2 separate regions of the Homo sapiens genome follow, and region 2 is linked to region 1. Evidence: fine-mapped expression QTL. A gene starts in region 1. The other region holds a variant in brackets. All regions are shown on one strand. Distances are from middle to middle.

Region 1 (5,314 bases):
ACCCGAGGGCTTCTGGCCCATTCATGGGGAGCCCAGAGAACGGTGTGCTTTGCCTCCAAATCTGGGTGGTGTGGCGGGATGGCTCCTGCTCCTTCGGACCTAAGGGACAGGCTGTGGTGCTGCTGCATGTGCAGACAAGTGTCCTATGCTGCCAGCATGCAGGGTGGGGACATTCCTGTGAGACTGGACTGTGAGGAAGGGTGTGACAGTTGGCTACTGCTCTAAGCTGGCCTGTCGCTGGCTTCAGCCTTTGCTGTCACCTTTCCTGTCACCATTTCAGTGTCTACAGGCTGTAAGCTAGAAGCTGACACATACCCAGAGTGGCCATCCTTTGTGCATGCAAGGAGTGCTCTTTTGTCACAGAAATGAAGACCCCATCGGGAACACACTGTAGGGGACTGACAATTACAGGTGCGCCGCAGGCAGGATGTCAAAGACGAGAGCGGGCCTAATGAAAGCATGCGTTTATGTCTAATAGGATGAGTTGGTGGGTGTCAGCATCATCTTACTCCCCCCAGCCTGGAAAGAAAGAGATAAACATGGGTGTCTAAAGGCTCTTCAAGGGGAGATTTTACTCCATCATCTCAGAGGGGTGGAGGAGAGAGGAAGGTCTGTAAGGGTAGAGAACGAAGCCTCAGACTCTGGGTGGGGTGCGGGTCTCCAACTGAAAGAATGGGGGTCTGGGGCTACCAAAAGTTGAGGGCCTGTGCTCAGCATCCTCTCTGGGGTGGATGGAACCTCAGAGGGACAAGTCCTGTGACACCCTTATGGCATCTTGGTGTGCAGGATGTACATGGCCTGGTACACCAGGGGTCCCTGGTTGGCAAGACCCTTCTCAGGCTGTCTCAGTATTAAAGTAACTGCTGTCTGACTTTACAGACTAGAGGAGCGGGGCTGGGAACACAATGTCGAGGTGGATTGAAGACCAGAGCCCCTGTGCAATGCCGACCAGGAAAGGTTCCAAGGCTCTTGAGTGTCTCTAAGGACGTGAAGGCCCTACCAAAACAAAATTCAAGGTAGGGACTTGGAACCACATTGCCTGGCTCAGAGGAATAAAGAATTGGGATAGCTCTGGTTTGCTAGGGCTACTGTAACACAGTATCATAAACCCAGTGGCTTAAACAATGGAAATCTACTGTCTTACAGATCTGGAGGCTAGAAGCCAGACATCGAGGTGTCTGCAGGGCTAGGCTCTCTCTGAAGGGACTAGGGAAGGATCTGTTCCAGGCCTCTCTCCTAGCTTTGGTAGTTCCTTGGCTTGTGGCAGCATAACTCCAGTCTTCACAAAGCGTTCTCTGAATGCACGTCTCTTTGTCCAAATTTCCCCCATATATATATATACATATATTTTTTTTTTTTGAGATGGAGTCTTGCTCTGTCACCCAGGCTGGAGTGCACTGGCACGATCCCTGCTCACTGCAACCTCTGCCTCCTGGGTTCAAGCAATTCTCCTGCCTCAGCCTCCTGAGTAGCTGGGATTACAGGCGTGTGCCACCACGCCCAGCTAATTCTTAGTAGAGACAGGGTTTTACCATGTTGGCCAGGCTGGTCTCGAACTCCTGATCTCACGTGATCCACCCGCCTTGGCCTCCCAAAGTGCTGGGATTACAGGTGTGAGCCACCGCACCTGGCCAATTTCCCCTTTTCACTGGAACACCAGTCATAATGGATGAGTCCACCCTTATCTTAACATCTGCAAGAACGTTATTGCCAAATAAGGGCACACTCTGATGTACCAGGGGTTAGGACTTCAACGTATAAATTTTGGGGGACACTACTCAACTCCCAACAGCTGGGTCTCCCATTCTGAGTTTTGGGGCACAGCTGTGCTCTGCCTAGGCATAGCTGATTCCCACCCTAGGAATTCCCACCTTGGGACTCACCATGTGAGACTTAGGAGGACAGTTCATCTCTTTCAGTTAAAAATTTTGTTTGTGGCTTGGAGAGTCACTTCAATACATGGATAATGATGCCCAAACCTGTCGGCAGCCTGCTTTCCAGCTGTGACCATGGCAGGTAACGAGCCTCCCTGAGTCTCCACTGTCCTCTGCCGACCAAATGGGAATCATAACAGCTCCTCTTATTATTATGCCTGAGACGAGGCAGCCAGTCTGGAGAGGGCCAACCTAGCACAGGACTGTGAGCACACACAAGACAATGTGGGCGTCCAACAGATCCTAGCTCCCTTCCCCTTGGAAGGCTATGCACACAGAAAATCTTTCCTTGGGTTGAGCTGAGATCTAGATGAGGCCAGGGGTCAGACGCGGTGAAGTACCAAGGTCACAGGGCTGTTATGGCATCGCACTGTGTAGAAGTCCAGTTTCATTGATCTCGGGATAGGGGCCGATTGGGGTCCAGTGGCTCCTTCGAAAGACCTTTTGCCCTTGGAAAATGAGATGTGACCTCAGGGATAGGGGGAGAAGGGAGAGGAAATGTGGAAACGGAGCCACACAGTCTTAGAGTTGCATAGAACTTTGGAACACCCCTATTGCAGGCCCCTCTCGCTACAGCTGGGGAAGCTGAGGCGGGAGGAGGGGAGGTACTGTGTCAAGGTCAAACGTTGGGTGGTGCCAGGCGACAGAAGCCAGGCCTTTGAGAGGCAAGGCTGTGGTAGAAATGAAAGGGGAGGTGGTGGGTGCTTCCAGGGGTCTGTGAGCTCCGTTCCCAAGACTGGAGGGGCCTGTGTCTGCGGAGGGGGTGGCTTCCTGGGCTCTGGAGGGGAGGGGAGGCTAAAAGCAGGGTTGGGGAGCGAATCTGGGGGATTGTGGGAATATCGGGCCGCGCCCCAGCCCCCAGCGATGCGTGGGGCGCCTGGAGAAGGGGCGCACGGGCAGGTGGGGTGCTGCGGGGCCCGCGCGTGGGGGCCGCGCCGGCCGGGGCGGGGTGAGTCACGGCCCGCCCGCTCCCATTGTGCGGCCCGGCGGCGGCGGCGGCGGCGGCGGCGGCGGCGGAGGTGCGGAGCGGAGCGCGAGGAGGTGGAGCCGCGGGCTGCGGGCTCCGGCGCCTGCGTCCGCCCGGCCAGCCCGGCTCTGCGCTGCGAGAGGCCGGACGGCAGTCGCGGCTGCGCTCGGGAGAGAGCGCGGGGGACATGGGGCGCGGCGGCCCGCCTGGGCCTCGCAGGCTCCGGAGCCCCGAGGTACCGCGGGGCGGGGCACGCCGGGCAGGGCGGGGGACCCGGGCTGTCCCGGGCGTGGCTGGGCCTCGGAGGGGCGCTTGGGCCGGGAGCGTGCATCCGGCTCCCGGGTGGGGGGCGCCAGCGCAAGGAACCTGACCCCGCCCTCCTCCCCCAGGGCTCCCCGCTAGGCCCCCTCAGTGGCCCCTCCTTCTCACCTGGGTCTCGGGTCCCCTAGTGAGCGAGAGCGTCCCCAGCCGCCTACCTGGCCATGGCCAACGGAGTGATCCCGCCGCCCGGGGGCGCCTCCCCCCTACCCCAGGTGATCGGCGCGCGCGGGGGCGGGGGAGAGATGGGGGAGGAGAGGGGAGGGACCTTAGGGTGGGCAGAGGAGTCCTCTGGCCGACCCCGGGACCCCCCAGATCCAGGGATGAGCTGGGCTGGGGGTTACGGAGAAAGAGGGGGGTTTTTGATATTTTCCAGATCCGTAGCCCTCTCTCTTTACAAGCTCTGGGAGCCCAGAGAGGGTGGTTTCTGGGATGCTGACACAGGCCTGGGAGCAAGGGGAGGGGGCCCGATGGTGTGAGAGCCTGCTGAGCTCCCCCAACTAGGGCTTGGAGTTGGGGTGGGTGTGGGGCCTTCATGGGTCAGGGGTCCTTAGCAGAGGCCGTCTGGGCCTGCAGGTCCGGGTGCCCTTGGAGGAGCCCCCTCTAAGTCCAGACGTGGAGGAGGAGGACGATGACTTGGGCAAGACCTTGGCTGTGAGCAGGTTTGGGGACCTCATCAGCAAGCCCCCGGCCTGGGACCCCGAGAAGCCCAGCCGCAGCTACAGCGAGCGGGACTTTGAGTGTGGGTAGCCTGGGGACCCCTAGTGCGGCCGCCCTCGCCACCATCACCTTCATCGCCACCATCACCGCGCTCACCTCCGGCTTGGTCACCCAGTGCCATCCTGTGCCGGACACTGTGCTGGACTCTGTGCTGGGCCACATGCCGTGTTCAGTCATCCTGCCTCCCCCACCCATCGCCTGTCCGCCTGCCTGGGGAGGTGGGCCCCAGACCAGGGGAGATCTAGGGAGCTGGGCCTGGGCCCTTCCACGGTGACCTTCCCCTTCCCCTTCGTCCCCACTCACTCCCTCCTTGTCCCACCTCGGCTAGTCCAACTCCGCCTTTCCCCTCCTTGCTGTATCACGTCTCCCCTCCCAGCCCCCTTCATGACCTTCCCTGTCCATCCACCCTCTCCTCCCACTCCACCAGACCTCATCAATGACAGGCACGTGGACACAGGTGTTGGGGGGTCATGGCCCTGGAGGAAGGACTAGGGTGCCCTTGTTTGCGGCCTTGAGCTGGAAGGTGTGTGCCCTCGGGTGGGGAGGGCCCCTGTTTCTGCTGTGGGGGCCTCAACCGGATCTCCTGCACCCCCAGTTCACCGGCACACATCCCACCACACCCACCACCCGCTCTCAGCGCGCCTGCCTCCACCCCACAAGCTGCGGCGGCTGCCCCCCACCTCTGCCCGGCACACCAGGAGAAAGAGGAAGAAGGAGAAAACCTCTGCTCCTCCCTCCGAGGGGACCCCTCCCATCCAGGAGGAGGGGGGAGCTGGAGTGGATGAGGAAGAGGAGGAAGAGGAGGAAGAGGAAGGAGAATCTGAGGCAGAACCTGTGGAGCCCCCCCACTCAGGGACCCCACAGAAGGCAAAGGTAGGGGCTTCCCTTTGGAGGGGTGGCAGGTCAGGGGTCAGGGAGGGGTACAGAGAGGAGGAGAGGAGTGCGTGTTGGGGGCCTGTGTGAGGCTGGGTAGGGTTGGGGGCTGTATGGTAGGTCGGGGCAAGGCCCCAGGGCACATTCTATGTCTGCAGTTCTCCATTGGAAGTGACGAGGATGACAGTCCAGGCCTCCCTGGGAGGGCTGCTGTCACCAAGCCCCTGCCCTCGGTGGGCCCACACACTGACAAGAGCCCCCAGCACTCCAGCAGGTACTGGCTGCAGCCTCTACTCAGCAGGGCCCAGCCCAGAGCCACAGGGTCCAGAGCTCCTGGCAGTCACCTCCTTCCTGACCCTGGGGAGTGTCCCCAGCTCTGACCCTGAGAAAAGAGGAGCAGGGTGTGGGAGGGGGGTGGGGATCCTTCTCTGTCCTCATGATTTACAAGGAGGAGAGAACAAGGGGGGGGGGAGAAAAACAGAGAAGAGCAGAGTGAAGAGGT
Region 2 (5,366 bases), 51 kb before region 1:
GCCAGTCCATGAACGAGTGCTGCTCCAGGATGATTAGTATAGTCTATGAGTGTGTCAGTGTGAGGATGCTAACTACACATTCTTGAAAGGACTGCCCTCTGTTCTGAGTTACAGCCCTCCTCCTTCTCTTCCCCCTCTTCCTTGTTCTCCATTTTCTTCCCTTTCCCACTTGCCTTTCCCTCCTTCTTCTTTTTTTTTTTTTTTTGGTGTAAACCTGTCTTTTAAAAATGGAATTATTTTAAAGAATTTATCCTACAATATTCCTGACATGCCAAAGATATAAAGAGTAATATAGGCCGGGCGCGGTGGCTCACGTCTGTACTCCCAGCACTTTGGGAGGCCAAGGCAGGAGGATCACAAGGTCAAGAGATCGAGACTATCCTGGCTAACATGGTGAACCCCGTCTCTACTAAAAATACAAAAAATTAGCCAGGCATGGTGGCACCAGCTACTCGGGAAGCTGAGGCAGGAGAATTGCTTGAACGTGGGAGGCGGAGCGGAAGGCAGAGGTTGCAGTGAGCCGAGATGGCGCCACTGCACTCCAGCCTGGGCGACAGAGCTAGACTCCATCTCAAAAAAAAAAAAAAAATGGTAATATGGCTGGGTGTGATGGCTCACGCCTATAATCCCAGCACTTTGGAAGGTGAAGGCAGGCAGATTGCTTGAGCTCAGGAGTTTGAGATCAGCCTGGGCAACATAGCGAGACCCTGTCTCTACAAAACCCACAAAAGTTAGCTAGGTGTGGTAGCACACGCCTGTGGTCTCAGTTACTCAGGAGGCTGAGGTGGGAGGATTGCTTGAGCCCAGGAGGTAGACGCTGCAGTGAGCCGTGATCATGCCACTGCACTCCAGCCTGGGTGACACAGTAAGACTCTGTCTCAAAAAAAAAAAAAAAAAAGAATATAACAACCATCCATGTAGACACCATTCAGGATACTGTTTCACACTATCTGGTGAGTAAGCATTGAAGTCTAATACAAAGTCTTAGTGCTGGTGAAGTGGAGAGAGGGCCTCTTACACACTGCTGATGGGCATGTTAATTGGTAAAACCACTTCAGAGAGAAGTTGGCAATGTCTTCTATTTTTTTAAGTCCCTTCATGATGAAATTAAAAAATGGGAAGCCTACAGAAGCTCTCCCAAAACTCAGGAGAGTCCCCACGTCCCGGAGGGCGTGGAGCAGAGTGCAGCCCATCATTGGCTCATGACTGGTGGCCACATCCCTCCTGCTGAAGAGGAGGGGTGCCAGGTCCTGCCAGTCAGGGCTGCCCTCTCCCTTTTCTTCTGTCTCCTGCAGATGCCAGCTGTGAGGACAAGTCAGCTGCCAGAGGGCTGGCCCAGGAGGCTGAGGAGGGCCTCTTCAGATACATGTTCCGGCCATCCCAGCATACACGCAGCCGCCAGGTGACTTCAGCCCAGCTGTGGTTCCACACCGGGCTGGACAGGCAGGGCACAGCAGCCTCCAATAGCTCTGAGCCCCTGCTAGGCCTGCTGGCACTGTCACCGGGAGGACCCGTGGCTGTGCCCATGTCTTTGGGCCATGCTCCCCCTCACTGGGCCGTGCTGCACCTGGCCACCTCTGCTCTCTCTCTGCTGACCCACCCCGTCCTGGTGCTGCTGCTGCGCTGTCCCCTCTGTACCTGCTCAGCCCGGCCTGAGGCCACGCCCTTCCTGGTGGCCCACACTCGGACCAGACCACCCAGTGGAGGGGAGAGAGCCCGACGCTCAACTCCCCTGATGTCCTGGCCTTGGTCTCCCTCTGCTCTGCGCCTGCTGCAGAGGCCTCCGGAGGAACCGGCTGCCCATGCCAACTGCCACAGAGTAGCACTGAACATCTCCTTCCAGGAGCTGGGCTGGGAACGGTGGATCGTGTACCCTCCCAGTTTCATCTTCCACTACTGTCATGGTGGTTGTGGGCTGCACATCCCACCAAACCTGTCCCTTCCAGTCCCTGGGGCTCCCCCTACCCCAGCCCAGCCCTACTCCTTGCTGCCAGGGGCCCAGCCCTGCTGTGCTGCTCTCCCAGGGACCATGAGGCCCCTACATGTCCGCACCACCTCGGATGGAGGTTACTCTTTCAAGTATGAGACAGTGCCCAACCTTCTCACGCAGCACTGTGCTTGTATCTAAGGGTGGGGGGTCTTCCTTCTTAATCCCATGGCTGGTGGCCACGCCCCCACCATCATCAGCTGGGAGGAAAGGCAGAGTTGGGAAATAGATGGCTCCCACTCCTCCCTCCTTTCACTTCTCTGCCTATGGGCTACCCTCCCCACCCCACTTCTATCTCAATAAAGAACACAGTGCATATGACTTGACATATGTTCTCCAGCTTCTCTGATATGGAGTTGGGCCCCCAGGAGCATGGGACTGTCAGATCTCAGGTCACTCAGCCACACTTGACCTCAGAGACATGAAGTTCAAGAGCTATAACTGGATGTGTATTGGTTGGGAATCTACAACGCTTGGGGGTGACATAATAGTGCTCCAAGCTCCTTGGAGAGCCACCTTGGAGACAGAGCTGGACGCATGCAAGCTGAACCAGACATGTCAATCAGGTTGCCTGCCCTGCACACCTAAGGGAGACTGCTGCACTCACATG[A/C]CCACATCCAAGGCAGCCATAAGTCCCCTCCCCTGCCATTCTCTGCCACAGCTGATGGGCACTTAGCCCGAGGTCAGGTGATTTGTAGCCTGGCCAGAGACTGTGGCCTTTGGAGTCCCACTGAGACAATTGTCCAGAGTTGGCCAGACCTTGGAGTTACTTGGGAAGCTTGGGTGGGATGTAAGGGAGAGATATATGTGTTGGCAGCATCAGAAAGAAATTAACAAGGGCAAAGAGGTGGTGTTGTGTTAAGGTCAGACAGATCACCTGACCAAAGACCTGAGGATTTCCTTTTGCCAAAGGCCCTTCTTTGAATCCGTCACTGACTCTTGCTGTAGACTCCGTGAGGCCTCCTGCAGTAGGATTCTAGTTCATGAACTCTTTGTCTCCCTTGATGTCACCTGTACATGTTTACATAATCCCTTAACTCAGCCCTTAGCATCAGAAGAGTGGAAAGACTGAGGCTATTGCCAGAAAATAGAAAAGCTCTTTTGTGAATTTGTGCATGCAGGACATGGTGCAAAACAGCACTTTTCTTTTTTCATTGCGTTTCCTATCAGTCCATTCTGCCTCCGGATTTGGGCATGGGGAAGCCCCTCTCCGCTGGCCTTCCTCCCTGCTTTTTTCACTCTCCTTGTTATCCCCCTGGGTCTCGTTATCCTTGTGCTCCACCCCAGGGTCCCTGCTATCAGCCACTGGTTCCATCCAGTCTCCAACACGTGTGTGTGTGTGTGTGTGTGTGTGTGTGTTTGTGTGTGTGTGTTTAGGGGAAGGGCTGGGATGTTCAGGTCCATCAGACTGGAACTTGAGAGCACTTTCTGATATTGACTGCACAACTACAGTGTGTATTTATCTAACCAGAGTCTTTTACTGGTCAAAGACTCCTTTCTACCAGCCTGGCTTGATGGGGTGGAAGGGTAAGCGCCTGCTCCAGTGAGCGGTGCAGCGGGAAAGAATCCTATCCCGTCACAGTTACACCAACACCCCTCCCCCACCGGAGCTAACCTGAATGAGCCACTGTTCCCTGCAGCACAGGAGCCTTCAGAGCCATGTACGTGCTCCTGTACACGCCCCAGTCTCTGTTGACACTGAGTCCCCCAGAAGGCTGTCACTGTTCTGGAGGGGGAAACCTGCTTGTTTGCAGTCCCCAGCCTCTCCCAGGACCTTCGTGTTGACTCAGCATTGGAAGCGCTCTGTGCTCAGAGCTCTGTGCATCCCTATTCAGGCAGTGGGCTGGGGAGACAGCTGCTTGGGCTCTGCCAGTGGTGGGAAGGGGAGGTTTTTTCCAAGCCTGTCTATGTTCTACGTGCTCCCTGCCTGGCTTCTCTGGCTAGATCCTCCCTTCCCAAACAGTGAGGTCTTTCCCTGGGATCTTCAATTTTCCTACTAGGCTTCAGCTCTTCATTCTTCCTGCTGGGGCCCCCTAGAACCCTGTGTTATCCAGATGCTCCCTGTCCCAGGGATGAGGATGGGCGCTGAGGGCTGGGGGCAGATTACTGAGGGGTACAGGATTCTCCACGAGGCCAGTTAGCAGATTGGTATTGCAAGTGAAAAGCGTGCACATGTCTGAGACAAAATGAGAAAAATGAGTATGAGGGAGTCTTTCACAAAGCCAAATATATTCATTTTATAAAGGCTATCTTTCAATGCTACCCATTACCTTTTCTGCTTGTGGGTGTGTGACAGTGTTAGCTCTTTCATGATGTTATGAAGAGGGTAGAAAGTAGTGGTTTTGTTTGTTTGCATTTCTACCCAACAAAATTTAAACTTGGCAATTCCAGTTTGGAATGTAAGATTTTTCTTTGGAATTTTGTTGCCCTGTGAAATCTGTGAGATCCCAATGTCTGACAGTCACTGTTCGGAGCCACTCCTTCTAAGGTCTCTAATACCTAGATTCTGCTAACGCAGCAAATTAGGAAAGATGTTCACAGATCCCTAAGAGGGGCTCCACAGTGGCTACGGACATCGTTTTGTTTTCTATCCTCATCAAGACACCAGCCCAAGAGCAGTGAATTTCAAAGATGATCCCTGTTCCCAATGCTAATCATTAGGGACGTACTGTGAATACTCTTAGTTTGGAGTCAGTTTAAACAGAAAACCCAGCTCCAACTGGATTAGATCAAAAAGTGTATTTAAGCCAGGCGCGGTGGCTCACGCCTGTAATCCCAGCACTTTGGGAGGCTGAGGTGGGCGGATCACCTGAGGTTAGGAGTTCTGACTCCATCTCTACAGAAAATATGAAAATTAGCCGGGCATGGTGGCACTTGCCTATAATCCCAGCTACTTGGGAGGATGAGGCAGGAGAATCACTTGAACTCAGGAGGCGGAGCTTGCTTGCAGTGAGCAGAGTTCGCGCTACTGCACTCCAGCCTGGGTGACAGACTGAGACTTCCTCTCAAAAAAAAAAAAAAAAGTTTTTAAAACTCACCAGCACTGGCTCATTGGCTCATGATAAATCCACAGGCACAGCTAGCTAAGGTATGGCTCAATTCTGGGCTCAAAAGATGCTACTAGGATCCATCTATAGGCTCTAGTTCCCCCCAGATCAGCTCCATCCTGGGTCCATGGCAACTCCAGGCAGCACAGGCTCCCATCATTATGCAGCTTGGTCCGGCAGGAGGGAGTTCACTTACAAAAGTCCTGGGACAAAGATAGGCACAGTGGCTCATGCTTGTAATCCCAGCACTTTGGGGGGCCAAGGCAGGAGAATTGTATGAGGCCGGGAATTTAAGACCAGCCTGGGCAACAAAGCGAGACCTTGTCTCTATT

Alleles and levels. Alleles are on the strand shown, and positions count from the first base shown. SD is a standard deviation of normalised expression in the study named.
In carriers of allele C in region 2, the expression in thyroid of the gene that starts at base 3,021 in region 1 tends to be lower than with A alone (small effect, 0.20 SD a copy in GTEx).

Evidence for each region. PIP is the estimated chance that this variant, and not a neighbour inherited with it, causes the effect. A credible set is the group of variants that fine-mapping cannot tell apart.
Region 2: its variant is the best candidate, but not a certain one, in a credible set for the expression of SLC4A3 in thyroid (GTEx, PIP 0.64).

The regions. Positions count from the first base shown.
Region 1 is chr2:219,624,610-219,629,923 of GRCh38, forward strand. It overlaps SLC4A3 (solute carrier family 4 member 3), which reads left to right and starts at 3,021. Exons shown (of 23, transcript NM_005070.4): 1 at 3,021-3,136; 2 at 3,291-3,434; 3 at 3,796-3,961; 4 at 4,535-4,812; 5 at 4,971-5,086. The coding sequence starts at 3,384. It overlaps LOC124908064 (a long non-coding RNA gene), which reads right to left and starts at 3,401. Exons shown (of 2, transcript XR_007088701.1): 1 at 3,331-3,401. RefSeq lists enhancers at 3,524-4,226, 4,227-4,928.
Region 2 is chr2:219,573,399-219,578,764 of GRCh38, forward strand. INHA (inhibin subunit alpha) reads left to right here. Exons shown (of 2, transcript NM_002191.4): 2 at 1,296-2,313. The coding sequence ends at 2,128. Among named protein-coding and RNA genes, the nearest start is that of INHA, 3.8 kb to the left of the region's middle. RefSeq lists an enhancer at 3,167-3,742. The variant A/C (reference allele first, on the strand shown) is at 2,598.